3 separate regions of the Homo sapiens genome follow, and all the other regions are linked to region 2. The links come from fine-mapping of genetic effects on gene expression. A gene starts in region 2. Each other region holds a variant in brackets. All regions are shown on one strand. Distances are between the middles of the regions.

Region 1 (11,401 bases), 130 kb before region 2:
CTGTTGCCCAGGCTGGAGTGCAGTAGTGCAATCATAGCTCACTGCAACCACGAACTCCTGGGCTCAAGCAATCCTCCCACCTCAGCCTCCTCATTAGCTGGGACTACAGGCATATCCCACCACACCCAGCTAACTTTTTAAATTTTTTGTAGTGATGGGGTCTTGCTATGTTACCCAGGCTGGTCTCAAACTCCTAGCCTCATGTGATTCTCCCACCTTCACCTCCCAAAGGGCTGGGATTACAGATGTGAGCCACCAGACCTGGCCCCAAATTGGACATTTCTATTACAGCCCCATTATAGAGGACAATTGATTATTTTAAGTTCAGTCACCCTAAACCAACTTTTTTTGGCTGCAATTAAAGTATCCAAAAGAATGGATTAAATATATTTCCTAAAAACTTGACTGTATAAAGTGAAAGGGAAAATGAAGCAGAATCCCAAACAAGAATTATTAATCTATGAGATTCTATTAGTCAAATAATAAGCCCTTCAGGAAACTATTGTTACTTTCTATTGGTGTGGTCTACCTGGTTGATTTTTATAAGATTGAGATCAGGGTCATCTGAAAAGCAAAAATCTTGGTTGCTAACTATTGTCTTTACTGGCTATCTCCACCCCATATTTTTTATTATAATAATCATCAATTATTTTCTTCATAGCTTTTTCGATAATTTGTAATTATTTTCTTTATCATTTTCTCTGTGCTTTGTAAAGTTGATTAGAGCAAAGACTAGATTTTCAGCTTCAAATACAGAGCCAAGTAATAATAAGTGCTGTGTTAATGTTAGCTAAATAAATTAACCTAGCCCAATTTCTTAATGTTACATTTACAGGTGAGGAAATGAGCTTCAGTGGTAGTATTTGATGTACTGGAGATCATGCTTTTGTCCAATGGCAAATTCCAGAAATGAACAATCTCCTGACTCCTAGAAGTTATTTTCCCTTCTACAACAATTTGCCTCTTTTAATAAGTTTAAAAGATGGTTCTCAGCCCTGAGGGCACATTAGAATCATCTGGGGAGCTTTATAAAATTCCACTGACAAGGCCACACTCTTCATCGTTCTCTGGCAGATTCAAAAGTGCACTAAAGTTGGCACTCATTGTATATGTGTGTGCATGTGTGTTCACATGAAGGTGTGCAAAAGAAGTTTTATTTAGGAGCAAATGAAGAAGCAAAACTGTGTTTTGAAAATGCTCATCAGGCAGCTGTGTAGGATGGTTTTGGACAGAGGCTGAATAACAGCAAAATGACCAGCTACTTGTACAGTTCACTAAACAAGAGATAAGAAAGAAATGAACTCAGATGATAGCAGTAGCAGTATCATGGAGGGAGGAGGAAGGACAGATGAGATGCCTATAGAAATAGCTCTACAAGATTTGGAAACTGATTGGATGTGAATGCTACAGGGGAGAAAAACTCCAGGGCCTCAACAATTGTGCCTAGCCTGATTCCAGGAGTAATTTGTTACCCACATGTGGTAAATTAACACTTTGAGTGACAGTGTACCAATTTGCAAATTACTTCTTTCAGGGCATTAATGACTGAAGAGTATAATCACCATGGCATTATTTTTATTGGCATTAGCATTAATAAATATTTCATGAGCAACCAAAAAATTACAGTGCCTATACTTAGAAGAATGTTCCAAAATATGAAATCCAGAACTTAGGTTATCACCAATGACAAAAATTCTCTAAATATTTATAAATAAAATAACAATTCATTGAGTAGAAGATTAATTGAGATGAGTTGCAATTATGGTTAATGTTAAGTAGTTTTGTTTATGTAATTATAAATTGGAGGGCTTGGAGAATTGAGCAGCATGAATTCTAGCAATAATTTAACTATAACATTGGAGGAGTTAATAAACTCTCTAGATCTCAGTTGCCTTATCTGTAAATTGGAGAAAATAATGTTTTATCCACCTGACAGCAACAGTCTGAACTAGATTTTTTCTCCTAGCTGTAGATCTTCAAGTTTGAAAAATATGGAAGCTGATAATTAGTCTGGAAAGGACACTGGACAGGGATTCTAATGCCTTGTGATCCAGACTGTGTTCCAAATGATGTGTACTAAGTTCTGAAGGTTTATGTTCTCCCAAAATCCATATGCTAAAATATTAACTCCCATGTTGATAGTATTAGGAGGTAGAACCTTTGATTAAGTGTTGAAGGCAGAGCCCTTATGTATGAGATTAGTACTCTTATAAAACAGGAGCAAGTGAGCTCATTTGCCCCTCCCACCATGTGAGGACGTCGCAAGAAAGTGCTGTCTGCTGTCTGTGAACCAGGAAATAGCCCTCACTAGACACCCAATCTACCAGCACCTTGACTTTGGACTTCTGTCTCCAGAACTGTGAGAAATAAATTTCTGTTGTTTATAAGCTAATTTGTGGTATTTTATTATAGCAGCCCAAACAAAGACAATCTGAGAATTGTACTAATAATTTCTAATTTTCTTTCTAGCTCTAAATTTTAAAATTCAATATCATGGAATATGATCCTTTTGTGAAGATACCAAAGGAAACTAGCATACTGAATTTCTAGAAAATTGAGAAGACAGTGGCCTAGATCTAAAAAGAAAAGAGGAGGAGTCACAGAATTGTTCTTGAGCCTTTCTTCATCCACTGGTTGTATAAATGCTCTTGAAGTCTTGTGGTGGCATTGCGAGACTTCTCCACAATATTTAAAAATTTATTTTGATATGAGTGATTTTATTGCATTTTCAAATGTAGGAGGCCAGGCCTTTGTTTTATAGAAAAATTTAAGAGAATTTACAAGAGAATTTTTCTGTTGTATACAAATGTCAGGTTTGCAATAAAGAAGGCACTTTATTTTGTGGCATTTTTGCAGATCCCTCTTCATCATGCCTGTAGAAGCATGTGAGTAAAACAAATTAATGATTTAGTAGGATTGAGTTGATGAAATGCAGCAATAAAGACTGCCAGGTAAAGGAATAATTCAGTCTTTTATTTTTAGCCTCTCAAAAGCTATAACACCAGGGGGAACTAGTCACATCGCCAGCAAGTTCATAGAAAATGCCCCCAGACCATTGGAAATGCTCTGCCAAATTTATCAAGGAATTATGAATGAACTAGACAAATAAATCAAGCATCAAACATCAATAAGGCAGGTGTGAGATGCTGGTGAGCACCATTTCCCAGAAACTTGTCATTTACACAAGCAAAAGAGAGGTTTATATAAAATGCAAATACAAAATGATAAAAATCTTAACATGAGGACCACTGCTCCAATAAGTTTACTTTAAGAGAAAAATAAAAAATAGAATTCTTAATGGCCTGAAACTGAACTCCAGTAAATATGGCAAAGCTATTTAACATAAACAGTAGAAAGAACTGAAGTTAATCAGTTTGTAGGAAATAAATAATTCAACAAATATTTATTTGAGCACATACTATCTGCCTTGGTGGGGCTGGAAACAGAAAACTCAATGTAGCAAATCAGTCTGTTAAAAGGGAATATGCAATGCTCTTCCCTGTTAATTTCTTCTAAAAAGAAGGAAGCGAGTGAGGGTCTTAGGTTTTGTTTCACTCAGAGGAGGAAATAGAATAGTCAGGGTGAGCTTCATTGAAAAAGTGAAACGTGAGCACAGATTCAAGAAATCTGAGGTCATTAACCAAGTCATAAGGGGGAAGGCACATAACAGGCAAAAGGCCAAGGTACTGCAATGAAAGTGTGAATGGCTTGTTGAGGAAGAGCAGAGTCTACTATAGTTAGGAAAGCAGGAATAAGTGAGGAAGTGCAGTCAACCAATAAGGTCAGAGAGCAGAGTGGATGTGAGTAGAACAGATAATTCAGTCGGGACTGGAAGCCTTCTTGGAAAGAACTTGGGCTTCTACCTGAGGTTTTAGGCATAGGAACCATATTATTGTCACAAAGGAATTAGAACTATGTTGAGAAGGGACTGAAGGTGCAGCAAACAACCTATTAGCAGGCTGTGGAAATATAGGAGAGCAGCATAACTCTCATGAAGATGTGCTCTGAGCTCACTGCTAGTAATAGGAAGGGGTTTTGTGGTGTGATATCCACACTTGCTTCCCCATGCTAACTGATATCCAAGTGCATACAACACATGGTGGATTTTGGAAGGGGTGAAGAGAATTGCCCACATCTGAAGATTCTGTTCCTTTCTTTGTAAATATCTCTTTCCAATAATTTATCCTCTTTCTTAGTTCAGCTGCCTCCTTTCTTCTCCAAATCCAAAGCCATATTGCTGGACCCTTCCTCTAGACTGAGCTCTAATTCCCCACCTCCAAATACCTCCTAGTTTCCACTTGATCATGTGTCCATTTCCCCAAGTCAATGTTTCCAAAATCTATGATCCTACTTGATCCTACCTAAGACTCTTCTAAAAACTATTTTCATTGATAAACAAAATACTTCAAAGGTCCACAGTGTATATAACCTAGCACCTAAAGAGGAAGGATCATTTAGTGTGCAAATATTATTAGAAAAATAAAAGACAAAAGTCAATAATTTTGATTGTATGAAAATTAAATTATGTTTATCAAAAATGTAATGACTTCTAAGATAGACAAACCAGAAAGAGTAAATAAAAGTCTTTAAAAATGAGATTCCGTGTTTCCATAATCATTTTTGAAAAGTTCTTTTCAGCAATGCCATCCACTGTCAGTGGGCTATTTAGGTTGGATGTCAAATGGGTACAACCTTTTTGAAGAGCAATCTGGTAATACCTGCTAAGTGCCTTTTTAAGTCCAATTGGCAGTATAACTAAAGTTTTATTCATTTTCTTAAGAAAGGACAAATTCAGAATGTGTTTATGAAAGTGTTTTCAAATAATTCGTTACAAAAACAGAGAATGAGAAATTACCTAAGTGTTCGACAATAGATCCAGTAGTTGATTTTTACACAACCATTAAACATATGATTCTGTAAAAAAAAAAAAAAAAAAA[T/AT]TGTGTCCCAGCTACTCGGGAGGCTGAGGCGGGAGAATCACTTGAACCCAGAAAGCGAAGTTTGCAGTGAGCCAAGATCGCGCCACTCCACTCCAGCTTCGGCGACAGAGCGAGACTCCATTTCAAAAAAAAAAAAAGAATTTTGTGGGTACATAGTTGGTGTATATATTTATGGGTTATATAAGATATTTTGATATAGACATAAACATATAATTCTTGAACAATACTGGCCATAGGAAAATACATACAATTGAATGTAAAATTTTATAAAATGTAAAATTACAAATATAGCATATACTAGTTTCCTATTGTTGCTGTGACACAAAATACCACAAACTTAGTTGCTTAAAACAGCACTACATATTATCTTACAGTTCTGGGAGTCAGAAGTCTAGAATGGGTTTCCTTGGGCTGAAAAGGTGTTAGCAAATCAGCCTTCCTTTCTAGAAGCTATAAAGAAGTTCAGAAGCTCTCATGTTTTATTGCCTTTTCCAGCTTCTAGGGCTTTGATATGGATAGGCTTTGTGTCCCCACTTAAATCTCATCTTGAATCGTAATCCCTAGGTGTTGAGGGAGATACCTGGTGGGAGGTGTTTGGATCATAGGAGTGGTTTCCCCCATGCTGTTCCTGTGATAGTAAGAGAGTTCTCACAAGATCTGATGATTTTGTAAGCGTCTGCTATCTTCCCCGCTTGCATTTCTCTTTCCTGCCACTATGTGAAGAAGGTCCTTGCTTCCTCTTCACCTTCTACCATGATTGTAAGTTTCCTGAGGCTTCCCCAGCCATGTGGAACGGTGAGTCAATTAAATCTTTTTCCTTTATAAATTACCCAGTCTTGGGAATTTCTTCATAGCAGTGTGAGAACAGACTAATACAGGCTGCCTGCATTCTTTGGGTAATGGCCCCCTTCCATCTTCAAAGGCACTAATGGATAGTCTTTACCGCATTTTATTACTCTGATATGTATGGACTCTTCTCTCACTTCCAACATAAAGGGCTTTAGGATTACACTGGGCAGACCCAGATAATCCATGATAATCACTTTATTTCAAGATCAGTGTTTAGCAAATTTAGTGCCACCCGCATCCTTAATTCCCCCTTGACATGTAATATGTAAATTGGCAATATATAGTCTAATATATTCACAGGTTTGAGGGATTAGGACATGGATATCTTTGGGGCCCTTTATTCTGTATAGCACAGTATGTTTTAAAATTTTATAAGCTATAATACTTTTATACATATGAAATGATTTGAAGGAAATGTAATAAAATATCAATAACCAATCCCAGTGGCTGGATAACAAGTAGTTTTTGGTTTTTTTCCTCTATACTCTTTTTTTATTCTTTCTTTTATTTCTGTTTTTTTTTTTTTTGTTGTTGTTGTTTTTTGATACAGAGTCTTGCTCTGTCACCCAAGCTGGAGTGCAGTAGCACAATTATGGCTCACTGCAGCTTCAATCTCCCAGGCTTAAGCCATCCTCCCACCTCAACCTCCCAAGTAGGTGAGATTACATATGCACGCCACTATGCCCAGCTAATTTTTTTATTTTTATTTTTCATAGAGATGAGAAGGTCTCACCATGTTGCCAGGGCTGGTCACTAACTCGTTGGCTCAAGCAATCCTCCCACCTCGGCTTCTCAAAATGTTGGGATTGCAGGCATTAGTCACCATGCCCAGCCTACACTTCATATCCTCCAAATTCAATGCAATGAGTATTTTAATTTATAAAAAAGTGGAAAATAAACTTTCTTAATGACTTTATCTTTGCTATTACATTAATCCAAATTCCTTTTTATAATTGTCAAGGCAAATTTTTTCACTTCATAAATCAGAATTTCACTGATTCTTTCCCACCTTTTTCATCTTCCTCTCATCTTGTTCTTCTACTATTTTACTTTTACAAATGCCAGCCGTCCTTCAAAGTCTAGAGTCTTAACCAAAAAGCTTCCTTAGATTATCACAGTTCTTACTCATCTAAAGTTCTCCAACACAGTCTGTACCATGAAATTCAACCAATTGCTCACCACTTCACTTCGGAAACTCGTATCTGGTATCACTAATGAAAGGTTGCTTCTCAGAAGCCAGCAGCACCATGCTCCGTATTGCTGTCGTATTTATTCATTGTATCTTGAGGCATGTTAACAATATTATATGTACTCCTAAACATTTGTTGAAGTATGCTTCTAAGATTTTGAAGTAATATTTCTTTGATTTCAAATCATTTTATTCATTTCTGAGATGTTTTATTCTTTTTTTTTCTTATCTTCTCAATGAAAACTGTTTTAGATATGAAAAGAAAACCCATTGTCATCACCTCCTTGGCCACTAAATACTTAAAGTCACCCAATATGTGTGCTGTTAATCCTGTAATTTCATTTTTTCCTTCTGTACTCATCCCTTTCTCTAGTCTGTAAATTAATTAAGCCACCTACAATTAAAATAAAATTCCCACATCTCTGCATTTCCTTCCCTCTATGCACTGTCTTGTCCCATTGACAGCCAAGCCTCTTAAAAGTATATTTTCTCTATTGCAGCCTCCTTCACTTTCTCCCATTTCTGCCTTTGGTCTCCACCAGCAACACTGACGCTGATCTGACAGGTTACCAACCCTGCTGATAGCCAAATCAAGTGGAATAACTTTAATCTTCACTATCCTTAACTGCTGAGCAGTACTCAACAATAGTAATTGTTATCTTCTGGACACTCTTTCTTGACTTCAAAAAATGTTTTGTCAACTAGACTATAGGCTTATTCCCACCTAGTGTACCCTCCCTGCTTGCCACTAGAATGATCTTTCTAAAACATAGTTCACCATGGTACTTTCTACAATACTGAGAAGGTCCTGTATCTTTAAGGTCCAATATAGTAGCAACTAGAAACGTGTGACCACTGAGGACATACTACGTGGCTAGTGCAACAAAGAAACTGAAATGTTAACTGTATGTCAACTGTATTTAATTTCAATTAATGCTAATTTAGATGGCCACATGTAGCTAGTGGCTACAGTATTAGACAAGCTAGTTCTAAAATATATGATACTTTTTTATGGCTGCCCATTGCCAAAAAGTTCTCAAACTTTAACATGCCTAAGGATTATGTGAATAACTGGTTTAAAATGTCTATTTCAGGGTTTTAGCCTATCTATCTATCTATGCATCTATGTATCTATCTATATAATCTATCATCTTTCTATCATCTATGATCCATCTATTTACTTTAAAAGCCAACAGCCTATTGAACTAATAGTCATTTTTTTCCCCAGATACTGACGGTGAAAGGGATAGATGAGGTGATCATTTTTCTTCTTTAGAGATGGACAGAGTCAACATAAAATTGTAATAGCCTTGACCTAGGCTCAGATGACTGGTTGATACATGATATAACCAGCTCCAATCATCCTCAAATTTAAAAGTTTATTGACATTATGTTTTAAACACTGTTCTAAGCACTATCCTCTTCCCAAGTTTCAAGGTATTAAAACCCAGATCTAGAAATGAAACAACTTCCCTACTATTAATTTCAAGGGCAGAAGTCAACATGACACAAATTAGAAACATAATCAACTTTATTGCATTAGAAAAATTAATTTAAATCAGGTGGGTAGGTCAGATCTCTGTGGTTAGGGTCCAGGAGTATAAATTCTCAATCTCAGGTGAATCTAATGGAAACTGTGGCCGAAAATTTAAAATACAAATTCCCTACCATGTTCTAGGAAAACCTTTCATGACTTTCCAGCTTCATCTTATTTATTACCACCACATTTTTCCTACCATCCTTTATCTTATTTTGCCAAGTCATAGTAAACTACTTCATATATATATATATATACACACACACACACATATATATAGATATGCATAGAGCAGCATAGGTAGATCTAACTCTGTTTTTTTTTGTTTTGTTTTGTTTTGAGACAGAGCCTTTCTCTGTCACCCAGACTGGAGTGCAGAGGTGCGATCTCAGCTCACTGCAATCTCTGCCTCCCGGGTTCAAGCAATTCTCTTGCCTCAGTCTCCACAGTAACTGGGATTAAAAGCATGCATCATCACCCCTGGCTAATTTTTGTATTTTCATTAGAGACAGGGTTTCACCATGTTGGCCAGGCTGGTCTAGAACTCCTGACCTCCAGTGATCTGCCTGCCTAGGCCTCCCAAAGTGTTGGATTACAGGTGTGAGCCACTGCACTCAGCCAATTAGATCTAAATTATTGTTCTGAGTAGAAAATATAGGTGATTCAATAAGCAATATCATTTACAAAATTTAAAACTATATGCAAAAATTCAATAAGATATTTGATAGAATGTATCCAAAGATGATTGAGTGAGAAAGAATGGGAGTATGGTGTGTGGACAAAAGAAAATAAATGAATAGATAAAACAAGAGAGGGACTTTGTTTAAACCAATTATAATATACTATACCTGGAGAGAGAAAGAAAGAGAACTCTCACTAGTATTAGAATATGTTAATAAGAGTAACTGTGAATCGCCCTCTGAGGTTTTTAAATATAAACCTACAACACTTTGTGTGCATTACTGAATGAAGGCACTAGGTGTTGAAAGCTGAGACATTAGCAACATACCCTTTTTACTCACAAATATACTTGTGTTTCACTAACGGGGCTGAGAGAGCAGTTAATTTTGTCAGTTTATGGCTTGTTCAATGCCTATTTTCCAGTTGTCTTAGTCGTCCACTACATGCTTGTTTTTAAGCATTGTTTCTCTTAGAATCAAAATATCTTTTTGAAAAGAAAAGAAAAACTTGTTAAGTACTTCATTTGCTTGGTATATCCCTAATTTATTCATTCAACAAAAGCATATATTTATCTATCTTCTAGATATACTTGCCAGGAACTATGCTAAGTTCTGTAATGAATGTAAAATATTTCTGATGATTATGAAGTATGAAGTAGATGGCCTCCGAAAGTCTGATTATTTACCCTCAAAGCTTATCATGGTTACTATTAAATTTAATCCTTATGTCTAGACCAATCAAATTTATGTTAGCACATGCAGGTTGTTTTAATTATATAATTCCAGCCCTTCATTCCAGAAAAAAAAACAACACACAATCAAAGACAGATTAAACTGTAGCCTTGAATTGCAGAAAGTGATAGTGGAAAGATCTTATATGTAAGGTATTTGATCTATATTAAATTACTCTTCAATATATTTGTCAACAGTTTACTTTCCTTGGTGTTCATCTGTATATATATTTCTCACCAGAATGACCGGCATAGGGAGAATATTTAAAAAGTGTTATCTAGTCCAAAAAACAAAAAATTTAACATTCCGTGTTGTTGTTGACCGACTAAATCTGGTTCTAATACTGAGTGGAATTTCCAAACATGACCCTGGGGCAAGCAGAAAGCAAACGTCAACATATTTCCCAAGGTATTAAAACTATCAGAAGGAAGTACTAGTATTTCCTTAAACATACACAACACACAATGAATCAAGATATGATGTCATGCTTTATCGAAATATTTATTTTCATTACAATTCACACAGTTCTTCAAGGTCAAAGTGACACTAGTCTTACTAGAAAATATGGGATTTGAGTTACATAAATCATTCTCTACTGTTTAGAAAACAAATCATGAATTTTCATGAATTTGGGACACAACTCTAGGAACTGGATGGTATCAAAATTCAAAGATAAGTGGCAATATTTCTTATTTCTTTTTTAAAGCTTTCATTGGAAAAAAAAAAAGTTAACTTTTGTGGTTATGTTGAAAAAAAAATGCAAAGACCAGTACAGCCTATCCTTTTTTCTTTTAGAAGTTGTGGAGGCCTTTTTTTCAGCAGTGTGATTCCCTGACATCCCCCTACCCTGCCATTCTACTAAATTTCCTCTCACATCTTCTATACAGCCCCCTCCCACATACACAGGACAGAAGTGGAACAAGTGGAGAAGAAAATGATGAGAGTAATGCCGAGGGAAGACAGCAGTGTGTTTAACATCACAAGATCAGAGGGAGCCCAGAAGCAGAACCTAGAAAAATCCTTTCACAGCATGCAATATAGAACAAAAATCCCCAGAAAACTCAAATACTACTATTATCATGTTTCAAAACAAGAAAGCTAAGAAAGGTGACAAAAGGACCCAAGAAAAGATAGCACATACTTTCAGCCACCTGTGTGTCGGGTGGAAAGTTTTCATCAGAACCCTTTAATTCTTTCTTTTGATGTATAAGCCCAATCAAGACAATAATATGTCCTTGAACCAAAATGAATTCTCTATGATAGACTATCACTCTGGGTGATAAACAAAGCTTTTAAAGACATAAACTAGCTCTGTAGGTGGCCTTCACTCACTCCAAGAAAGCCTTTGATTAAAATAAAAATGTATGTAGGAACAAACTTGAATGAAGGCATACAAAAGGTTTCATTCCATTTGGGAGAAATAAACATGAAAATGAGACCTTTTCAATACCCCTACAAGGAAAGACAAATTGATCAA
Region 2 (11,054 bases):
AAAAATCAACTTTATATTTAAATTAAACTGATCCCTATTTAAAGAAAGTTTTGGATCAAAGTTAAACTAATAATAATAAAAATGTATAACTATGTTGCTAAAGCTAAGGCAATTTTCAGGTAAAATATAACCCAAGAGTTTCTACACTGATAACGTGTGTTGTACCCAACAAATGTACTTCAGGCCACTCTAGATTTTCGGGTTCTTAAGTTCAGATCACATGACACCATCCAGCATCCTAATGCACAGGTACATTAAGTACCACTGCACATTCTCCCAGATGATTTTAGAAATGCAAACTATTAAAGTTGGATATTGTAGATATTAGCTATTTCCAGGTCAAATTATTTTCCTTGGGTGTTTGATGTTGATTTTTGACATAAGCCTGGTTTAACAATTGTGATTAGCAGCTCAAGTGTGAGCATAAACAGCCCATCAATGAGTCGATATGACTACTAAGGGCATGCCTAATGACAGGAAAATGATTGTGCTGACAATACAAGGTGGAGAACACGGGCTGCTTCTCAGAAAACATATGTTTATCATTCTAGTTCTCTGATTTTCTGCAGTTAATCATTTTTATTTTCTGTTTAGAAAGCTGAGTCACTCATTTAGAGGCAAAAAATAATGATAAATGTAATTCAGTTTAACAGCCCTGGGTGCCAGAACATTTTAATTTAACCAAGATGTTTTCTGCTTTTACCTATTGCAGCTTGAAAGTTAACTCCTTCTCCAATTTTTGCTGCCTTAAAAAAAATCCCTAAGATTCACTACATTAGTACAAGTGGGAAATAAAGCTATCAGTTTATGCCTAAAATCAGGGGTATATGCTAGGTTTTTGAGCACTGGAAAAATTACTTAGTTCTGATATATCAGTGACAGAATTCTTTAGCTCAAAACCATCCTTAGAGTAAAATGCATTAGAAGTTTAAGAACCTTCCTCTCTGTCACCAATGGAAACCTAAAGTATATTGCCTTCAAGAGAAGAAAGGTTCAACTCGTTTAGAAGCTTGTTATGGAAGTTTCCCAGACACAAGAGTATTTTATAGGCTGTGTGTGTTTACACTTTGGAAGAACACAAAGAAGCTAATTCATTCTTGGAAAGTGTTTCTTATAAACCTTGTTTATTTATTTCAAAACAAACCAGTTATTGAAAACAAGCATAAGCCATTCCAAAGCTACTGGTCACAGAAACCTGAATTATCAACCGGGTGGTAGAGGAGCCAACAAGAAACAGAAAGATGAAATGGAGTAAGTGCACGCTTGTTCAGAGAGCTGCGGCAGTCCTGGATCTGCTGAAGAGACCTAGAGGAGAAGCGCTTCAGAACCTACACATTGAGTCTTAGGCCCAAACATGCATATGCTTAAGAAAGAAGCAATCCTGTCATCCTGTTTCTTCGCAACCAAAGGAAGGGGGAGTGGAGGGACCAACGGTTCCCGCCCTCTTACCCGGTTGTTGATCTAGGGCAAGGATCCTGAAGAACTTGCCTGAGTAACGCGAACTGTGCAAAAGTTCTCAACTACGAGTGGGAGCCCCTCCTCACAGCACTCCCCCCACCCCTATCTGTGCACTTGTGAGCAAACTGAAAAATGCAACAATGACAAAGAAGCTTGCCACTTGCAAGCGCGCACTCACCCTGGGCTGTGGAGCCCAGCTGGCCGCCGCCCGCCTCGGCCACGCGCTGCGGCCCCACGGGCCCGGGAGCGAGGGCTTCGCCCGCGCCGGACATGGGCCGCTCCGCCGAGCCCGCGCCGCGCCGCTGCCGCCTAGCTCGCCGCCCGGCAGGGCGCACGGAGGAAGGGCTGTGAGGTGCTGGGTGCAGGGAACTGACTGCTTCTGGCGGAAAAATATACAAAATTAAAAAAAAAAATGTTTTTAGAGAAGAGCACACCACCCCTGCGGGACGTTCCCTCCCCCTCCACTTCCCTCCCTCAAACTCCACCCCGGGGAAGTTTTGATTTGAAACTTGCGAAGAAAACTGTTACAGCGCAAGTTGACAGCGGCGGGGTCCCAGGGGTCCGAGGTGGACCCAGCGGGGAGGGGCTGGAAAGAGAGATCGGGTTTGGGAGAACCCCGGGGATGGGGATCAAACCCCTCCTCTTCCCCGCCCGGAGACCACTACCTACCTCCGCATCCCCCCGTAGTCGCTCCAAGCCCCTTCCTCCTCCTCCTCCTCCTCTTCCGCCCCGGAAAGTTAGCGAGCCTCCGGCAGCGGCCGCATTTTCGCCCCGGTGGCCTGACGACGGCGGCGGCCGCCCCTGCGCGTCCTCCCGCCTCCCTCCGGCTCAGCCCAGACGCCGCAGTGGCGGCAACTGCGGCAGCGGTGGCGGCTCTGACTCCGCGCACTCCGCCCCCTCTTTCCAGCCAGCTCACTCCAGCCGGCTCCCCTGCGAGGGGGCCTTCCCCCTCTCTGCCTCTCTTTCCCCTCTTCCACTCCTACAATCCTGAAACACTTCTCCCTCTGTTGCTCTTTTTCATCACATCCGGATCGGGAAGGCCTCGAACTCTTGGCTAGCGGCCCCGATGCTGGGAGCGGCGCGACCCGGGCTCGGCCGCGCGATCCCTCGCGCCCTGCGCTGTCTGGGTCAGGAGGCCAGAGCCGGCCTGGGCTGGCTCGGGCTCCCCACCCGGGCGCTGCGCCCTCCCGGGGCTGGGAAAGGGGAGTGAATGGGCAGGTCCCTGGCTGCCCAGACGTTCCCCCCACCCCGCCCAAAAAGTCACCTCATCCCTTCTCCCTACTCCTGCCCCCAGACCGACGGAGGCTTTGGGAATATCCTGACGAAAACCTTTAGGGTGGACAAGGAAAAACGAAAACACTGTTACAGTATCGAACTTTCCTGGTGGGATAGAGAACGTGTGCGTTTGAAACCTTGACCCCTCGGTTGAACGTTTACTCACTTCATCTCTGGCTCCTAAATTACTCTTTGGTCAAACAGTATTCCTGATGTAAAACCAGTTGCAGTTTGCGCGAATCTGCTGGAGGCATCCAGGCAAACAAGGTTGGCACCCTTGCGGATGCCGTGGTACTGGCCCCAGCCTGGCCTATGGCAAGCTAAATGCCTCACTGGATCAGTGGTATCTGAGGGGAGATAAACTTGTGGTCGGAAGTAAAAAGCTGATCAACTTTCCGTTTATAAATGAGACATTCTGATTGTAGCTTAATCTGATGAGCCGAGGATAGCAAGTGTAAAGTAATTTACAGATATATAGTACTTTAGTGGTATACTCAGATAACTTTTGCTCTTTTATTTCATTGTGAATGAAATGCAGAATTCATTTGTAGAAAGCTAGAACGAACTCATTCTTCGATTCTTTTGGACAAGCGAGGAATCACAGTAACGTTATCAAAACTGAAGAAAATGTGCATTGGATTCACTGTCTTTCTATGTGCATCATTAATAATATCCCAGAAATTTCATTTTTTCAAAAAGCTCATTGGAATTTATTCCAATTGATTACAAAGATTTACTTGTTACCTATGAAGAGACAGTGCATTCTAACTTGATTTCAATGATGGTAAAAAAGCCAGCCTTCGGCCGGGAGCGGTGGCTCACGCCTGTAATCCCAGCACTTTGGGAGGCCGAGGCAGGTGGATCACCTGAGGTCAAGAGTTCGAGACCAGCCTGGCCAACATGGTGAAACCCAATCTCTACTAAAAATACAAATATTAGCTGAGCATTGTGGCGGGCGCCAGTAATTCTAGCTACTGGGAGGCTGAAGCAGGAGAATCGCTTGAACACAGGAGGCAAAGGTTGCAGTGAGAAGAAATTGTGCCATTGCACTCCAGCCTGGGCGACAAGAGCAAGACTCCATTTAAAAAAAAAAAAAAAAAAAAAAAAACAGCCTTCAAAGTTGCTGATGACAGTCATTCAGACCATTCTCCCCAAAAAGACAAATGACATTTTGCCCCATTACACATAACTAACATTTTTTTTTCACTTGGAGATTTCAGAAATGGTATGAAATCAAGTGCATTACCTCTCTTGAAAACTTATCTAGGAGCCTGGACTGTTTGGAATTTGTCTGATGGAAGCAGATCAGTTCTGAAGATGACTTCATCACCACTAGAGAACAAACATTTAGGACGTCTCAGAGTTCACTGCAGCATCATCTGCACTCAAAGGAGTTGTTTACCTGCTCTGGAAAATTCTGTTTTATCCCTGTATCATTCCTTGCCCTATTTTTAAAATTCTCTCACAAAGATGTTAAAGTCCAATAATATAAAGAAGTTACAGCTTTCTTCTAGAAAGTCATAATCAATGATAAGTATTTGTTCATTTAATTTCACACAGTCCTTAATATTGCACACGTGGTGGGTGATTCCATAGATATTCCTTAAATTAAATTTTAAAATCTTTAATGGAGAAGACATAAAATTAAAATAACATTAGGAGCAAATGAGAAGCTGTAGGGTAGCATCACCAAGGTTGTCAAATACTGTACCTCATTCAGCTGTGTGACTTTGGACAGTTAGTCACCCACTCTATACCTTGGTTGCCTCATAATATGAGAATGAAATTCTTCATAGAGTTTCTTTTTGAGCACTAAGTAAGGTAGTTTTCCTATAAAATTTGGAAGACTCTCAAGGGAAAAGGTGTTCAAAAGTATCAACTATTATTACTATTATACACGGAAGCATCTTGATGGGTAAAGCTGAGCATGGCATAATGACTGTATCAAAAGGGTCATATCAAAATACCAGTTTGTCATGCCATGCACCTGACGCAAATGATCTCAATGAATTCTTCCATCGGCCCTATAAGTAAATTGCCAGGATTGTACCTTCAGGATTAGAACTCAGGTCTGTCTCTCTTCCAGGCTATCCTGCATCCCTAGGTAACTCAGGTCTTCCTTCTGGAGGACCTAGAAGTGGTCTTAATGCCATTAACCTGGTGTCTGATATGCCAGAAGTTAAGTGTGGGCTCCTGAGTGTCCCTCACGCCTCCCATTTCCCACATCCCTGGCTGCACTTGCTTGTTCTGATTGCTTCATTTGTTTACTGACAAGCACTCCAGTACGTTCATCTCTCATTCTTTCACTCAGTGTCACGAACTGAAAGTTTGTGTTTCCCCAAAATTCATATGCTAAAATCTTAGCCCCTAATGTCATGGTGTTAGTAAGTGGGGCCTTTGGGAGGTAGTTAGGTCATAAGAGTGGAGCCCTCATGAATGGAATTAATGTCCTTACAAAAAGACACAAGAGGCCAGGTGTGGTGGCTCACACTGAGGCAGGGAGATCTTTTGAGGCCAGCACTCTAGGACCAGCCTGGGCAACATAGAAAGACCCCATCTCTACAAAATTGTTTTTAAAAAATTAGCAGGGCATAGTGGCATACTCCTGTAGCCAGCCACTCTAGAGGCTGAAGCGGGAGGATCACTTAATCCCAAGAGTTGGAGGTTACTGTGAGCTATGTGGGCCACTGCACTCCAGCTTCGGCAACAGAGCAAGACCCTGTCTCTTAAAAAAAAAAAAAAAAAAAAAAAGACATACAAGTGTTTCCCAAGGCTCCACCTTTTAATACCATCACCTTGGTGATTAAGATTCAACATATGAATGTTGGGGGACTACAAACATTCAGACTATAGCAGGGGGAGACATATTTTCTAAATTACTGTTTATAAAAGCCACTCTGGTATTATGCGTAAAATTGTTTGGAGGACTGAGAGTGGATCTAGGGAGTCCAATTTGGAGGCCAGGGCTGATGGCTGGCAGAAGGAATGGAGCCAAGTAGATAGGGATAAAGGATGAGGAAGCTAGAGGAATCGAGAGCAACTACCAGCTTTCTGCATCCAGGTTGATGGTGGTGGTATGACCTACAGAGATGAAAACATTCAGGAGAGGCCAGTTTTGGGGAAAGCTGCTGAGCTAATCATGCAAATGATGCAGCATGTGTGAGACAGCTAATTGGAACTGTCCTGCATAGGCTGCTGGACATGGGACTGGATTATAAGCATATACATGGTACTTTGCTGACTAGCAGGTTATAAGAATGTCCAAGGCAAGTGTGCAGAGTAAAAGCAGAAGCCCTGAGACGCAGCTGTGCCTTGGAACTCAATCCACGTGTATCCTTACTGGCCTCTCTCCTTTTCTCCACATCCTTCCCAGTGACATAATACCATTATCAGCTTGGCTTGGAGAACCACTACTGTTTAAGTACTACTACTGTCAGTGTCCCACTTGCTACCCCAGATCCCCCTGGGTTGTCTTTATTAAGCTAGATTTTGCCATGTCTTAAGCTATCTTAATCTGCGTAGGTGGAAATTCTTTAGGGGTATCAGCCTGCCGGTGGAACTCAATGTCCTAGCCCCGGATCAAAGCCCCTTGCCTTTGAAATTCTTGTGTGCCTTACAACCATTCCTGCCTAGTGATGTGTACACTAATGATGATATAATAATATGTGAACACATTGTGAAAGAGGTCTGACATGAGCTAAGCAAATAAAATAAAGAACTAATTAAAAGAGTTTATAAAGCATCCTTATGGACTACTTAATCTTCATCATTCATTCATTAAACATTCATCAAACATTTATTGTGCATCTACTATATGCTAGGCCACATATTAGGCTCTGGAGATAAAGAAATTTGATTTGATGTCTTGAAAAGCAGCTAAATTAGTTTTCACTTGGGCAGAGGCTTATTTGCCTAGTAAAGTCAAAATTAATCCCCATACACAGATATCTAAACCAGAGGTCTACAACTGGGGTGTGTAATTGTAAGGGCATTCCAAGGGATGCATAAGACAATCTACTGAAATGTGGGCAGAAAATATCAGAGTGAGCATTTATATATGTTTTTATGTTATAATTTTTAATTTCTACTTTTGAGTATGTTTTTATACAGTGTATTGCACATTCTTACAAAAGTACTTGGGTATGATTTATAAGTAAACATACATTAAAGGTTCACATTCAAATACTTTGTTTCTTTGTTTAGAAAAAAAACTTTTTAAATGCTTTGAATCCTTTAAGGAGTCATTCCCAGATTATATCAAGGATAGTTTTTCTGGAAAATATATTTACCTAATTTATGTTAGAAGCAGCACTTTGGCAATCCCCAAACCCAATGACCTAGAAACCAGGAAATAACAGCAACATACTAAATACCTAAAATAACCTTCATGATGTTCAGAAACTGCCAACACAAAAGACATAATCCTTCTCAAATCCTACTTGTTCTTTTGTGAATACACACCTCTAATCAAACTTTATTTTCTACTGTTTCAGCTCACATTGTTTTAGAAGAAGAAAACTTAGGGCGCAGGAAGATTGAGGAGAAGGGATTAGCTAAGGGAGCTATTAGGTCAGAAAAACTGACAGCAGGAGAGATGACAGCTGACAGACAAGGAAGATACAGGAAAATAAACATGTTGTAACAACGCCTTTGTGAATTCAGCTTCGTGAAATAGTCAATGTTCCTAATGAGCCTGAGTCATTAAGGAAAGAGTCAGTTAGTTATGTGAGTGCTATATTCTGTTTTTAGGGGGTCGGGTCAATCTTTTTACATTCCAGGAAAAACTCTTTCAAACATGTTCAAAAATTCCTTTAAAAAAAGGTTGCTACTTGAAAGAGTAAATTCCACAGAATGACAATTTTACAGCTGCAAGGGAAATTAGCAATCACAATTCCAGGCCAAGCTGTATGGATCGCATTCCTCCACCTCCTAGTACTGTGTCAGGTGCAATCAGGTGCAGGGAAGGTCAGGTGCGCAGGTTTCTGGAACCCTGCTCTTAGAGTAGAGCACTTTCTTCCTTTTCTCCATAATGTATTAGTCCTTCTCTTAAATTTTAACTGAAACAACTGGTTCTTCCGCTTTTTAAAAGTTTAAAAATCACCAGTCTTACCCAACTCCTTCATTTAACATATAGAAAAATACAAAGACATAAAGTTTACTTACTAGGTTCAACAAACATATGTTGAACATTTACTACATGTCAAACCACATGCCAGACACTAGAGTTTCAAGTATAGAAGAAATACTGTTTTAGTCTTCTGGGAGTTCATAGTCTATAAGGCCAGAGGCAGAAGAAGGCAGCAATGTAGCAGCAGAACAGTCACAAACACTTACCATACTGCAGGAGCAAAAAGGAAGTAGCACTTACCTAACTCAGCTCAGGCGTAGGTGGGGAGAGTCAGGGTACATTTCAGAAAGACGATAATACCAAACTGAGTATTGTCGATGAGTAAATTTGCCTGTCAAAGAAGTTAGGGAATTCCAGATGGAAATAACACTTACAAAGACAAAGAAATGTGAAAGCCCCAGAGAAGTTAAATGACTTGGCAAAGGTCAGTTCGTGGATTAATTACAGAGCCAGTCTTAGGAGCCTAAATTTCTTGTCATCCAGGCTTCTTGCTCCAGCTATCTGGATAATGCACGTAAATGAATCCATCATTTCTAAGTGATGGCGAAGTAAGGTCATGCCTGTTGTTATATTTTGAAGTTCCAAAGATTTTCTGTTGTGAATGGGTAACCAAAGAACCAGGCATAAAATCTCTTGTTGCTGAATTAGTCCTCTCCAAGGTCTCAGTTAGTGTCCCTTTCAGTTGGCTGACTTCTCTGGCCTGGGGCACTGGCCTTCAGGGTCTCTCCTTGCTGTCACTGTACTTTCCTTCTTGTGTTTTAAAGGAAGGGAGGGAGATGTTAAGGCATACAGTGGTACTTGTCAGATAAAAGCAACATGACTGAAGACAGAAATGAAAATGGCCATAACATATGCAGTAGACAATAAGTAGACATTTGCTTCATACTTAGAAACTGAACCTAGATATACCAGGAGAATGAAAATTGTGGAAAATTTTAAATACAAGGAGCTCCTGAAAATAATGACTGATCTGCTGAAACTGCAGTTGAAAATAATGTTAGCATGATGATCATGACAAAAATGTTTAAAATGGTGTAGAAGATGAGGATTCTTTTGTTACTATAACCCCTAAACTCATTTAAATTCTCAGATAAAGAAAGAAAATATCAACTGTGACATTTGAATCAGTGCCCGTATTTCTCCAAATTTTGTATTAAGAAATACATGCTAAATCTAAAAAGCAGGATTGCAACAAAACTACAGTCATGAGCAATATAACAATGTTTCAATCAACAATGGATGGCATATATGACAGTGGTCCCATAAGATTGTAACAGAGCTGCCTTATGCAGGCATACCGTTTTTTATCTTTTACGCCATATTTTTACTCTACCTTTTTTTTTTGTTTAGATATACAGATACTTACCATTGTGTTACAATAGCCCACAGTTCTCAGTAGAGTAGCATGTTGTACAGGTTTCTTTGTTTCTCTTTTTTTTTTTTTTTTTTTTTTTTTGATGGAGTCTTGCTCAGTCCCCCAGGTTGGAGTGCAGTGGCATGATCTCGGCTCACTGCAACCTCTGCCTCCCAGATTCAAGCAACTCCCTGCCTCAGCCTCCCAAGTAGCTAAGATTACAGATGTCTGCCACCACGCCCAGCTAATTTTTGTATTTTTAGTAGAGACGGGGTTTCACCACCTTGGCCAGGCTGGTCTTGAACCCTTGACCTCGTGATCCACCTGCCTCAGCCTCCCAAAGTGCTGGGATTACAGGCGTGAGCCACCATGCCTGGCCTGTTGTACAGGTTTATAGCCCAGGAACAGTAGACTATACCATACCACCTAAGGGTGTAGTAGGCTATATCATCTAGGTTTGTTGAAGTACACTCTATGATGCTCACACAACAATGAAATCAACCAGTGACACATGTCTCAGGACATACCCCCATCAATTAAGCTATGCATGACTGTATATTGTTCACCCAAGCATGGGACCTATAATGAACTCCGGGAAAAAGTGAAGGTTTCCTGAATATCCTTCCACCTCCCATCCTTCTTCTCTCTCCTACTTCGAACAGCCCATCTGTCACCCCGGCACTTGCAGCTCTATATTCTTTTCTTGTTACCATAGGTTCTCAACTTTAGACAGTGTGCAAATCTGGGCCAAGCATTATACGGAATAAATTTGATTTTACATGTTAAATACAAGTATATGAATAACTCATGATCTTCTTAATTCTACCCCCAACAGTTACGTCTCTATCTTCACAGACCCTCAAAAATGAACTTAGGACCACAAGGAGACATAGACAGGTTATTTCTTGCCACACTATTTGTATAGCAGGGAGCTGAAGTCAACCTAGGCAGCCATCCTTTGGAAATCAGAAAGTTGATTATGTAGACGAAGAGCATGGGGTATTGTGTAGCTATTAGAAGGAACAGATGATAAACACATGTAGAAACAAAATAGATCTAAAAATGATACTTAGTGAAACATGTAAGAAGCAAAATGTAATTTTTGTTCAGAACCAATTAATAACTAAAAATACGTGCAGGGAAAACAGAGCACATTTTATAAGAACACACACAAACAAGGACGTACATAAACATCTGAGAATGCTAACCTATGAGGAGACAAAGAAGAGAATTGAGACTGGGAATTAGGGAGAACAAATAAATACATGCAGACAAACATAGGCATAAAAAGGGAGGCCTTGCACAGACCAGTGAAGGTAATGTACCATATACCAAGGTGCTGATTAACTCAACTCTGCTCTAGGGCTTCAAAATAATGACTATGACCATCATTATGACAACTTTTACTACTACTGCTACCACCATCACTGCCAAAAATAATCATCATCATAATAAAAGTGTTACATGAATTTGTATTGATAGATTATCAGGCAATGTAATAAAATTATCAGAAGAAATGAAGATGTTGTAGGGATATATACTGGGGGAGGAGTACCTTACACATATCCCTAAAATACCTAAAATTAGGTAGAAGGGACTACTTAGTTTGGCTGTGTTTAAGATCAGCAGCACTGGAAAATTTTGGTTGAAACAGCAAATCTATACAAAGGTGAGGTTTTTGTTTGTTTGTTTGTTTGTTTTACCTAAGCTCTCCCAGGTTGAGCATCCCTAATCCAAAAATTTGAAATCCAAAATGCTCCAAAATCCAAAGAACCGACATGACACCACAGTGGAAAATTTCACACCTGAGCTCATGTGACAGGTCACATATATTATTAA
Region 3 (7,556 bases), 100 kb before region 2:
ACACAAAGGAAAGATAAGCAGCAAGAAAATCCAAATGCATTGGCAATACCACTGCATGTTAAAAAAAAGAACTAGATTCACGTTGAACTTCGTTTTTGTGGTGCATAACTCCCCTTTCCATAGGTCCTATTAACTTCAAAGGGAGCTCCGTGCATGTAAATGATTATATTTATTGGATGCGCCAACTCTTTCTTATCCTCTGGGCACAATTAGAAATATCATAGAAAAATGAATGTCAGAGACTTGGATCCATATTTGATATTCTATGGGAAATTCCCCACAGTTACAGATGTTAAAAATCCTGCCCAATGGTCCAGTTATAAATTTATAGTATTTCCTTTTCTATATCCTTGGAATTATTTCTCTCTGATTTCCTTTTTACATTAAAGGAAACATATTCCCTTCAGGTCCAGATAAACTAGTGATAAAACCTTGGCTTGTTGTACAGCTTGATGTAGTAATAAAAATTTAGACTGTGTAACCCGTCTCTTTCAAGAAACTGTTAGTGCTTCCCTGAGATTATCCCATTAATACTTACAGCAACTCTGTTCCTACTTTATGTTCACTCTGGGAACTGCTCTTAGAGTCAGTGTCCAGGAACTCAATTCTTGGATGTTCATTTTAATATCATATCCATTAAACCACACTGTAATTTCAGTGTTCCTTGTCAATTCAGGCCATTATCAAGATTTTTGATAGGTGGCTAATAAACAGCGTTCTCTAGTTGAAGTCGCCACAATAAATTAAAATTGTATGGAGCCCTGTGCTTTTCACACCAATTTGGTGTTTTTTTGCTTTAAATTTAGTAGTCTCATGGCTAACAGTGGAAGCATCTCTAGGACTGACTCTGACAACATAACGACCCCATCCAGTGCTATCAGTGAATATAAAGACCTTGGAAATGTTATAGACATGGCTCCTCAGCAATATTACATATTATATGTTTTATATATAATCTAAGGGTAGGTTAACTCTTTAGCTGCGTATTTTTTAAAGTGACAAAAAAGGAGAAAAATAGAAGAAACCTTTCAAATTAAATATTTAGAACTATTATAAAAGAGAAAATGTTACTATTAAATGATGAAAAACATTGCTGGAAATGTACCCACATCTGATGTATGGTTGGGAAGATACAAAGGCTTTTTAAAATAATGTTTTGATAAGCAATATGACTTACAAAAGATTCATTTTAACTAGTCTTACAGACAAATAAACCATATCAGATTAATTTGGACCCATTTTTAATTATTTGTAAAAAATAAGTAAGGGCAGTCTAATTGTTGTAAATATTTATAGAGCAAAACAATGCAAACTACATATAACAATCAAATTTCTAGCAAAAATGTGTGTAAGTAGGTTTATTTTGAAAGGAAAAGTCCTACTCCCAGTGTCATAACCAATTAAATTCTCCGGGTAATGACCCCATTTGCATAGCGAGCGGAACCCACAAGTGGGAATTTTAATGGGTACACCACCTGAGTACAGTAATTGAGAGTGACACAACTTGAACTAGTTTTGTGCTTACCCCACTGAAAATTCTACTCATATTATTTTTAATGTCAAGCTACAAGTCAAATTTCAAGATGATGGATTTGTTCTTTTTTAAGCACTGAGTTTGAATAAAAGAAATGCTTTAATTCTGTTATGCATTGCATATCTTTGCTTTAACTAATCTGTACTTCTGATTCTCACCATTGCTTCATTTTCTTCAGTGATTGGAATTTAATTTTATTCATTAATTTGTGAATAATTAGATAAAAAATAATGTCCTCAGCTGCTAAATTGCTTTTGGATTGCGATTTAATGTACTTTTACCAGAATATGTATTATAGTTAGGCTGGCATAACAGTTTACTAAAATGTAATTGTGTAAATATGCCCAATTATTCTTTTTGATGATCTAACAAAATCTAATATAATATGTATTCATGAGTATTTTACTCCTCCTTCACCTCAGCACCAATAAAACACAGTTTCTGCAGAGCTGATCAGAGACACCTTGTCATCTAAAGATGTTACTTTTAAAAGATATTCTCCTTATCTCTCAGGCACTATTCATGTCCTTGAAAGAATTGTGCATTCTGATTGAGGGAGCATATGACGTCCACATGAAATTATATAATAAAGGTGATTTCAAGACTCTAAAAGTCAAACACACACGATTAACTAGGTTTTGAGGTGACATTTTAAAACTTCTTTTGTTTCACTCTAAGATTGCTTGCGATCTAACTGTTTGTAGGTGTTTGACACCACTCTGCCACATCTGTAATTGGCATAGCATCCAGCAGACAGGCTCTGTACATCTTTACACTGCAACCTACCAAGTTAAGAAATGTATTGGTTCAATATAAAACAGCAGGCTGTTTTTAGACATAGTTACTAGTGCACAAGCTTTAATATGGCTTGGCTTCATCCTATAATGAGATCTTTTGGTTCCCTGCTCAACAGGCTTTTATTCCTTTGCAAAAGGCTATGAACTATGTCAAGTGGATCAGCTGCTTTTGTACACCCTCTTTCTTGGCTTTGGAGCATAATTCCTTTGCTTCTACCCCTTTATGCATCAGACAGAACTTAAGAACCTTTTCCATTTTTCAAGCTAAACTTAGAATTTGTTTGAATTTGCTTTTCACCATTTTCCTAATAATTACATTCTCAACTAAACCTCACACAAAGACCTGCCTGGAAGTGAACACCTAATTGCAGAGCTATACTTTGTCTTTAACACATATATCTATACCCCATGTTGGTAATGTGTCAAAGGATGGTTATCTGAAATGATTTCTTCATGGTCACCTCACAACTAAATTAATGCTTCCTTTTCAGTGAGCACTAAATGGAATGTGGTAAGGAATTGAGGGCATAAGCAGACAAACAAACAAACAATGGAAGCAGAACTACTAGCCACAGTTCAGTCAGAAGGCAGGAAGCTACTTAACTTGACATCTAGCTGCTTAAGTGTTATAGCTGAGGCTCTAGTGGAAAGTGTCATGCTATTATGACAGCTTGGTGAAGAATAGGTGGTGCAGATTCTGTTTGCATAGAGACATTGCTTTCCAGGTGGGGCTCCGCTGCGGCTTTATTTCATTTCCAGATTGTCTATTGTCTTCATAAAAATTTGGTCATAAATATGATATTTTGAGTTACAGTGTTTTAAAAGGGGCAGTCATTGTCCACTGAGAATTTTGCAATGTATGTAGAAGATTTAGTCACCAATGACAGTTTTTGCAACACCCACCCTCCATGTTAGGGCTGCATTACAATAGTATCCCCTCTCCACAACTTCTTCTATTTTAAACAAACTCTAAAAGCAATCTTAAATAAGGAAGTAAATACTGGCAGGTTCACCGTTGAAACTGTTTTCTCATGGGAGGTGCCAAACTTATTCCCTGGGTTGAAACTTCTTGAGGGTTATGTGACTTTCTTGAGGTGTCTAGTATCAATCCAAGCACAAAGAAAACACTCACTGCAATTTATTGTATAAGCATACGAAGATGAAGGGTTGAAAGGATTCTCTTTTAATACCCAATGCTTGATTATAAAAACTATAAATAGTAAGTGTGGAACAAACCCTATTAATATATTAACCATTGTTTAAAACAAAAATGATATGTTCTGTTGTATTAGTGCAAAAGAAAACAAAATGGATATTATAGTATTTGATGACATTTTCTGTTGCCAGTCAGATTAGATGCAACAATCCTACAGGCCTACAAATCACAAGTAATTGGAAGGGGCATAAAGGTCTTAAATAATTTGAAAAATAATCTTATTAACAAATAACCTGATTCATTAGGCAGTTAGGTAAATCTAAGCATTTAACTAGCATTCAAGAAGGCAAGATACTTATTTATGTTAATAAGTCTCGAGTCTTATTTATGTTGGGCAGTGATGTTTGACGTTTATAACATTAGAATCTAGGGCACTGAAAGAGTTTGTATGGATAAAGAATGGAAAGTTATTACATAAGGTTGCCTTGGTTACTCCTTGAACTGCTCAGATAACATTGACTATCCAGGTGAGGAAAATGGATACAGTTGATACACTGTAAAAATGAAAAAATAATTTTCTAAATAAAAAGCCTTCTCCTAAATAAAGTCATACTGTATTGTTTTAGTTAGATGCTAACTGCGAGCATTTACAAAAATTTCGCCACTCTATGCCTTAGATGAAAATTCTTCTGATCATTTATTTTCGAGTGAAATTCATTAAATCTAAGACTCAATTTCATATATGTTTGATCATTTTTACCTTGGTTTTTAATCTCAGCATATATTGTAAAATTACCTTAGTTTTTCTAAGTGGAAATATAGCTCCAAAGTAAATAAATGAAATTAACTTACTAAAACGATGTAAAAAAAAAAAACTTGTATTTTGACATATTATAGATTTTTAAAAGAACACTGTGTTTTGAAATCACATGTCAATGATCATAAACTGATCGATATCTTTCATAGTTCATTTACGGACATGAGTCATGTGATTTACATAAGAAGACTAGGAAATCTTCAGACAGGGATGAAACATGATAAAGATAACCTTCAGATTTTAACTTATGGTTGAATTCTTTCAAACATTAGTCAATATGTCAATTAGATATAAACATACGGTAAAGCAAAATAAAGAAGTCATTTTTAAAAATTTTCAAAATAGTGTATTCAGGATAATACAGGTCCAGTTTTAAAATATTTTAAAAGCCTTTCCACATTTAAAAGGACACCGCCTGTAACTATAAATTCTAGCACTTAGTCATGATAGCCATATACTTCAACAAAACATTTTACATTAAGAAATCATAAGATATATTGAAACTATTTTCACATTTGCCTACTTTTCCTTTTTCTGTTTTCCTTTTAATTATACAAATGCTTTATGGAATAACTGTCTGGAGTAGACAAGAGGAAAAGTACTATGAACATAAATACAAAAATAAAATTCTGGTA[T/C]CCATTAACATTCTCTGTTATGGAGAAACATTATTGCAAATGTGCTAATATTTTCATCACAAATTGTGCCAGTACATGTTTAAATATTAGACAAACCACTTGGTTGAAAAACTTTGCATATAAAAAGTCAAATATTCTAACAATTCCAGGTCATTAGGAGGTTTCATGTGTCCATAAACAGATGATATTCTCACATCCTAATATATGAGCATAAGTTAATTTTGGGTATATGTAAATATTTAGATTGTGGTTACTGTAAAATAGTATAAAGATTTCCTTATATTTTATGTAACAAATGAATTAAGTTCTTTAGAGGAGAAAAATGAAGACAGCTGTTTACCAGAATTATATTCAGATCCCAAAATTTAAAGGTTTTGTATGTGTGTATGTATGTGTAAATAGCAATAAAAGAAAGATTCAAAAGTTTGCTAAGTTTTTTCTTTTTAAGCCCTTTAAGTAATGATATAACTAGAAACTACGTTTCATCTCAAAGGAAAAACCACAGGTGATATATTCTCATGCTTCAGGTTAAAAACCTCTCTTAAAAGGCTAGGTTTGCGAAAGCCTTCCTAAAATTATGCTTCTGTTGTTACTATCAATTTGATATTCAGCCAGAAAAATTAAAAATAATTATTAATCCCAAAGCATACTTTCAAAATTTCTACTAAGAATTATATTAAATCAAACCAAACTACAATTTTAGAGAGATCAAACTGAGTAGGAGAGAGCATGGTATGAAAATTTACTCTCCCTTTCATCTAAGCCACACACTATAGGTCTCAATAACTATACAATTACTCTTGTAATTGACTGATTTCTTTACACTTAAGGATCATTATAACCTGCCATATTAGTTTAATTTAACATAAAATCGTAATACAGAAATTTGGTCACAGTAGGGGATATCTAGATTTCTTCTGCATTGAAAAGAATGGTTTCCATTTATCTGTGTTTACAAAAAATAGCACTGCTTAAGAAACAAACTAAACAACTAAAATGTTCTCATCCCAAAAAGACCTAAAGCTCTCAAAATAAAAGAAAGCCTTTCAATAACTCAGAACACTGGGATTTTAATATTAAAAATTTCCTAATTTAAATGAAATGTGTCAGAGTACTCAATCTTCTTTATTAAATAGAGCTATTTTACTAAGGCATTATGTTTTCATCAAAAAAGTATGATAACATTTAAATTATGTGTAAGAAAATGCATATTTTTAGTTAATTTAAACTTTATAGCTTTTTCAAAAAGCTGTATTCCTACAACTAATAAAAAAGTATGCTGAAGGCACTGTTCTTTTAACTGGTTAAAGGCACACACAGTTTAGGGTGTCCACCTAAATCTTTGTCAAAAATCTAAATAATTCATTTAAATAGCAGGTGAATCACTCATTCTAAGAGAGTCCTCAAATGCCACATTCTCCCTGAAACCTTACTGAATATTCTGGTAGCAATTCTCTGCATATTCCAACAGCATTTTGAGTTTATTTCTCTTATAATCCTCACTTCAGTATGCCTTGTGGTATGGTTCATTCTTTACAGATCTCCTTAGTCTGCTAAATCTCATGTTCCTGTGGACAGGAGTGGAATTGTATCTGTCCCCACAGTCTGAGGAAGAGAGTCCACACAGTCGGCATTCAGAGTCTGTTGAACAAGTGGAGAAGGTAAGGGAGAGAGATCAACACTGGTTCCCAACTATTATGTGGGTTTGTTTCCTAAAGTTTCTTTTAAAATAAAGACTGGTTTGTTTATTTATTTATTTATTTATTTATTTATTTATTTATTTATTTAGAGATGGAGTCTCGCTCTGTTGCCCAGGCTGGAGTGCAGGTTGGAGTTCAGTGGCACAATCTCGGCTCACTGCAACTTCCGCCTCTCGGGTTCAAGCAATTCTCCTGCCTCAGCCTCCTGAGTAGCTGGGACTACAGGCGCACACCGCCAAGCCCAGCTAACTTTTTGTATTTTAGTAGAGATGGGGTTTCACCATGTTGCCCTGGCTGGTCTCGAACTCCTGAGCTCAGGCAATCTGCCCACCTTGGCCTCCCAAAATGCCAGGGTTACAGGTGTAAGCCACCGTGCCTGGCCAAGACTGCTTCCTTTCAATCATGAATAGATACATATCAAAATAAACTGCCTCGTTTAAATACACACTGAAAAATAATATATTTGGAGCAAAGTGCTCCTGAGAACGGTTAAAAGAAACAGAAATATCGGTAAAAAGGAGAAGGCATTTAACATTTGGGAAGGGGGGTGTCAAAATGTCCCTAAGTTATTGTAACATATTAAGAAATTTATAAAACTAGTTAAAGTAGTTAAAATTTCACATATTAAACCATGTAGATTTGGTTAAAGTAAAAAGGCTTTCAGAGATTACTTACAATAATGAGTTAACAGTGCAAATTCCATGTTGTTTCATGAGAATCTTACAATGTGCTTTTCTTCCCCCCAAAAGGAAATTTTTAAACACTCTCCAGTTTTAACACAAACAAAAGATAAATATTTATGAAGGAAAACAAATTCCACAGCATTCCATACAGATTTCCAAGCAGTCTGATGATTCACAACAGGCATCCATGATGCCACAGTCCATATCACAAGGGCAGTTACAATCATCCCCCAT

Direction of the effects. Alleles are on the strand shown, and positions count from the first base shown. SD is a standard deviation of normalised expression in the study named. Not every link is listed here.
With allele T in place of AT in region 1, the expression in monocytes of the gene that starts at base 2,670 in region 2 is lower (large effect, 1.0 SD a copy in BLUEPRINT).

The links. PIP is the estimated chance that this variant, and not a neighbour inherited with it, causes the effect. A credible set is the group of variants that fine-mapping cannot tell apart.
Region 1: its variant is the best candidate, but not a certain one, in a credible set for the expression of MDFIC in monocytes (BLUEPRINT, PIP 0.86).
Region 3: its variant is the best candidate, but not a certain one, in a credible set for the expression of MDFIC in skeletal muscle (GTEx, PIP 0.88).

What each region holds. Positions count from the first base shown.
Region 1 is chr7:115,047,108-115,058,508 of GRCh38, reverse strand. No RefSeq gene overlaps it. Among named protein-coding and RNA genes, the nearest start is that of LINC01393, 26 kb to the left of the region's middle. The variant T/AT (reference allele first, on the strand shown) is at 4,938.
Region 2 is chr7:114,913,710-114,924,763 of GRCh38, reverse strand. MDFIC (MyoD family inhibitor domain containing) reads right to left here and starts at 2,670. Exons shown (of 5, transcript NM_001166345.3): 1 at 2,128-2,670; 2 at 1,637-1,837. The coding sequence starts at 1,730. RefSeq lists silencers at 1,651-1,790, 2,021-2,200, 2,211-2,260, 2,591-2,730 and an enhancer at 8,372-8,461.
Region 3 is chr7:115,015,816-115,023,371 of GRCh38, reverse strand. MDFIC (MyoD family inhibitor domain containing) reads right to left here. Exons shown (of 5, transcript NM_001166345.3): 5 at 3,455-7,556. The coding sequence ends at 7,437. Among named protein-coding and RNA genes, the nearest start is that of LINC01393, 59 kb to the left of the region's middle. The variant T/C (reference allele first, on the strand shown) is at 4,940.